Linked DNA regions of Homo sapiens: region 2 is linked to region 1. Evidence: fine-mapped expression QTL. Tissue or cell type: whole blood. Region 1 holds a variant in brackets; the other region holds the start of a gene. All regions are shown on one strand. Distances are from middle to middle.

What was found. PIP is the estimated chance that this variant, and not a neighbour inherited with it, causes the effect.
Region 2: it holds the start of LDB1, and the variant in region 1 is fine-mapped to the expression of LDB1 in whole blood (INTERVAL, PIP 0.97).

Annotation. Positions count from the first base shown.
Region 1 is chr10:102,071,714-102,074,467 of GRCh38, reverse strand. No RefSeq gene overlaps it. Among named protein-coding and RNA genes, the nearest start is that of HPS6, 7.7 kb to the right of the region's middle. The variant C/G (reference allele first, on the strand shown) is at 1,536.
Region 2 is chr10:102,119,410-102,121,909 of GRCh38, reverse strand. LDB1 (LIM domain binding 1) reads left to right here and starts at 1,542. Exons shown (of 11, transcript NM_001113407.3): 1 at 1,542-1,824. The coding sequence starts at 1,800. It also overlaps a transcript of PPRC1 not described here. RefSeq lists enhancers at 1-152, 153-904, 905-1,656 and silencers at 1,153-1,282, 1,303-1,602, 1,663-1,742, 1,833-1,902.

The DNA.
Region 1 (2,754 bases):
TTCCCACCCCAGCAACAGGGCTCTGTAGGAAAGGCCTGCCCCTCAATTCTGAGGCTCCGGGCTGTTCCTAGAGCTTGCCTGGGGCTGTTAGGGATAAGGGCAATGCCCACCTTCCCTACTTTTCTCCAGAATAAAACAAAAATAATAGAATTTGAGATGACTGCATATCACCTTGGAATCCAAATGGCTGCCAAAGCCTGAGGACCTGAAATCTATGTAAAGCCTGAACAGTTTGCTCCTCCAGGGCCTCCAGGAGGCCCAGGATGAGATGGGTCTTCCACTTTCTTGGTGGAGGTCACCATTCCCCTTTCCTCAGCCAATCACAGCTCCTTCCCTTTTCCTCTATTCTCTAGATAATGGAAACTTCTGGAAGACCAGATCTAGCTCAGCTGCCCCATTGGCTTTATGCATTGGCCATAATTCTGGTGACAGGCCCCAAAGGACCTTCTCTCTGTGCCTTCCTTCATCCTCCCAGCATTCATACCTGAGAGCCTCCTCTGCTCCCCAGAGTGAGCAAATGTCCCTGTTTCTCCCTCCTAGGCCCCTCTCCCCATGCCCATCTGTTGTCTCTCCTTTTCATTCTCTGCATCCAGTCCAGCCCCATCTTCTTCCTCATCTCTCTGATTCTGTCTCTCCTCGCCTTTGTTCTTGCTCCTGTCCTGTCTTGCTCTTGTGCAGAGACCTTCAGAGCCAGGCCCAGGCCCTCTGTTTGGGAATTACAGGAGAAAGCACTCTAAGTCTTCTATCCACCACTGGGAGTGACCCTAGGCACTCAGTCCTGACCTCACAGCCCGATTCATTCTCTCTCCCCACCTGAATTTTTATTTAAAGCAGAAATGGGAACCCATGCAGTAATAGTGTAAGCAAAGCTTATAATTCTCATGGTCTGTGAGCCCTGAAATTGTGATTCTGGAAAATATTTTTATTGGGGGGGCTCACCTCTATTTCACATTTCGTGCATTAAGTGAGACTTTATTTATTTTGAAAAAGTCCCAGCATCTTCCTGTACTTCAAATTCATATAAAATGTGAACTTGCTATGCCCTCCCAGGAAACTCTGCTGTGTGCCCTCAACTTCCTCCCCAGTTGGACCAAATTATCTAAGTCAGGTTGGTAGCTGGAATAGACTTCCAATCCTGGAGACGAAGAATCCTGCCAGCCCAGGTCCCCTTTCTTCTGGGTGATAACCATCCTAGTACAAGTCCAGGGCCCTTTCCCTTCTCCATAATTCTGTTCCTTGAATCTCTCCTTCCCTCTTCTCCTCTCTTGCTCTAAGAGAAGCTCCATTTACTACATCCAGAGGCTTCCTCAGTTCTTAGTTAAAAATGGGCAAGTGTGCATGTTTGAGGGCAATGGGTGGAGTTGGCAGTGACAAGAGTAACCACCAGGGGGAGCCTGTGCCTAAGAAGAGACTGAGGTGGCATAGTGGAGCCACTCAGGACTTTTTCCCCTTCATTCTGGGGCAGTAAGGCTGCCAAGCATTCCAGCCCAGGGTGGCTCCTTATAGACCTGGGAATCTAGAGCTCCTTCCTCCCC[C/G]CTTTCTGGCTCTCCTCTTTTCCTGATTACCCGGGTCAGTGTGAACCAAACTGCTACATCTACACAATGTGAACACTTCCTAAGGACAGGTTAGGAAGAACATGGCCCCTGGAGGGCCTTATTATTTATTTATTTATTTATTTATTTAGACAGGGTCTCACTCTATTACTGGAGTGCAGTAGTGTGATCACAGCTCACTGCAGCCTGGACCTCCTGGGCTCAAGCAATCCTCCCACCTCAACCTCCCGAGAAGCTGGGACGACAGGCGTGTGCCACCATACCTGGCTAATTTTTTTGTTTTTTTGTAGAGACAGGATTTTGCCATGTTGCCCAGGCTGGTTTTGAACTCCTGGGCTCAATCTATTTGCCTGCCTCAGCCTCCCAAAGTGCTGGGATTATAGGCGTGAGCCACAGTGCCCAGCCTGGATGGCCATATTCAACGTAGGGATCGATCTTCCAGACCTTTGACCTCAACCCACAATTTCCACTAGCCCCTGTCACCAGTCTCTTCCTTGGAACCTCATTGACTCAGGCTTTCCTATCCCTTCTCAAACTCTCCTGGTTTGGGGATCGGGGGCACTGGGTAGTACCAGTTATGTCCATTGCTTTCACCTCCACCTCAACTCCCAAGATGGTCCGAGCTCAGTGGCTTCTTCACCCCTGCCACTGTCCTTGGTGGCTAGGTTCTGCCTTCAGATCCACCTGACTTACTGCCATCAATTTCAGGGCTGGATCAACCAAAGAGTCAGTCTGGCTTATGAAAAGAAAGGAAGAGAGCCAGAGAATCTCTACAGGCCAGAGCTTAATCCCTTCTTTTCACCCCAGGTCATAGGGCCTTGTCAGTTCCTGCATTCACAATAATAATTAGGCTGGTCGCAGTGGCTCACACCTGTAATCCCAGCACTCTGGGAGGCCGAGGCAGGCAGATCACCTGAGGTCAGGAGTTCGAGACCAGCCTGACCAACATGGAGAAACCCCGTCTCTACTAAAAATACAAAATTAGCCAGGCATGGTTGTGCATGAGTGTAATCCCAGCTACTTGGGAGGCTGAGGCAGGAGAATCGCTTGAACCCGGGAGGCAGAGGTTGCGACGAGCCAAGATCACACCATTGCCCTCCAGCCTGGGTAACAAAAGCAAAACTCTGTCTCAAAAATAATAATAATAACAATAATAATTAAACCTACTATGAACCTGGCACTGTGATACATGCTGAGGATA
Region 2 (2,500 bases), 48 kb before region 1:
ACACTTTAAGCCTCCGCATTTGTAACCCTCCCCCAGCCAGTCAAGCCAGCTGTGCAGACTCTGAGCCAGAGTGAGGGAACCAAACAGCCTTCTCAACCAACACCCCTCTAAGTAACAAAGAGGAGAACCCCCTACCCAGTCAGGGCCAGACGCCCTAGGGAGGAGACACTAGTCCAAGTCTCCATCGTCTATCCCTGGAGCCCATACTGAAACTTAAGAAAGAAAAGCTAGCAGCTGGGGACCCCAGGAGGGAGGGGGTCAACTCTCTACTCCAGGCGGCTCCCCTCCCTTCCCTCCTCCTGGCTAATAGGTATTTCCTGTTTATGAGGCAGCTAAAGCTGAGCTTTTGGGAAGGGATGGAGATGGAGCCCCTCCCCTCCTAGGGCTGGGTTGGGGAGTCCTTGAAGTGTGACTGAAGGTTGGGAGGCTCCTCCCAGGGGAAGGAGTGTTCCTTACATTGACCATCCACATCATCTCCCATCCAACCCCCCACGGCCCACAGCCTCTGCCTCTCTGGGTTAGGGGGCACTGGAGGGGCCTGTTTCCTGTTCTCATCTCCGAAGCCCTCAAAGGACAGCAGCTTCCAGGCAGGGGGGTCGGAGGCGGTGGGGTTGGGCGGTTGGTACGGAGGTGAAGGCACCAAGGCTGGAGAAAGGGGGGAAGGGAAGAGAGTGTCTTGACTGATGCGTCAGTCTGCAAGAAGGAAGGATGGCCTCCTATCGCCCCTCCGTAATCCAATCTGGTGGTCATTCCGCAGCCCCCTCCCCCCAGCAAAACACAGATCCCAAGCCCTTAGGCGGAGGAGGGCGGGGACCCCACTTAATTAACCCTTTTAGTTCTAGTCCCAACTGGTTTCGCAGGCAAAGGAGGAGTGGTTAATTTAGGGAAGGGGTGAGTTGAGGGGTTGCTACAAGAATTAAGAGAATGCTTCTTTACCCATCCAGCCTAGGGTAGGGACGCGAAACAAGGGGCCTCCAGAAGAAGGCTGGCGTCTCAGCAGGGAGCACGGACAGGGGGTCTGCAGTCCCTTTTCCCTCCCGGAGCGCGGCCCGGGGTGGAGAGAGATACACCACACTGCCCACCCCGGCTCCGCCTCCCCCAGCCGCGGCTCCCGCTCCGGCTCAGCCAGACTCCCCATCCGGCGGCACCCGGAGGACGGACACCGAGCGCGCGGCTGCGCCTCCAAGCCCTCCCCTTCGCCCTCCCTCTCTGGGGTCTCTGCCTCCGTCTCCTTTTTTAAAAGCTGCGTCACATGCATGCCGTTCCCCGAGCGCTCCCAGCCCCTCGCCGCCCGCCCGCCGCGCGGCGCACGCACGTCGTCGCTTGCTGCGCGCTCTCCCGGGTCACTTTGACACGGCTCTCCCCTCCCACTAGCAGGACAATTAGCATATTAATAAAGCCCGGCCCTGCCCGGCTTGGGCTGGGGAGCCGGCGCCGGCGCGAGGGAGCGCGAGCGCGAGGGCGGAGAGGGGGGCGCTCGGCGACGGCGGCGGGAGCGCACAGACACGCACACGCACACGCGCACACACGCACACACGGACACACACTCCGCGGACTCACACCCGCGCGCACACACGCAGAGGCCGCTCGCCTTCCTGCCTGGCTTCCTTCCTGTCTGCTCCGCGCCTGACAGGCCCCTCGCCGCAGCCAGGGGCCGCCCGCACCGGGCCGAGGCCGGGCCGGGCCGGCGGCGAGCGCAGCGGGGGCCGCGGGCGGCGGCGGCGGCTCATGCCCGGCCTGTCCCCGCGAGGGGCGGGCACCGTGACTCGGCTGGGCCCCCAGAGGCGGGCGATGTGAAGATGTCAGTGGGCTGTGCCTGTCCTGGTGAGTGGGGCGTGCGGCCACTCGGCCCCTTCCTGCCCAGCCGTCCCTGCGGACCCCTCACCCCGTGTTTGGCGAGAACTTGTGTGGGGGGCGTCGATGGCATGGGGGAAGCCGGGGGCTGGAAGGGCTACGCGGGGCCTCAGGCTGGCGGGTAGCGTTTTCCCCAACTGTGTAAATGCGCAGCAGCCCAGAAACACGGGGAGGAGACGCTGGGGGTGGCTTATGTGTATGTTTTTTTGGGGGTAGGCTAATTGGGGAGAGGTTTGGGGGGGGCTGAAATTCTCAGAATTCCAGGTTGTTAGCCAATCAGAAGTGACTCTGGACTTTTGACCCCCCCCCTCAGGTCACCATAGAGTTGTGATTGGCTGGTTTGGGCTGCCCCCCCTTCCCTGCTGCCCATTGCCTCTTACCTATCCTGTGACATCCCCCCCATGCTGTTTCTGAGGACCCTGTTTGCAGGGAGGTATTGATTGCGGCCCATCTTGCCCCCCACCTTCAACTTTTCCTGCCTGTTGCCAGGGAAGGTTGGCCCTCCTGAGGCACCGGAGGTACTCCTAAGAGGTGCCAGATAATTGGACCCTTGGGTCTGGCATCTCCGCCCTAGTGGGAGGGCAGGCTAGGAAATAGAGTGATTTGTGGAGAGGTAAGCTGGGGGAGCAATACTTGACCCAAAACT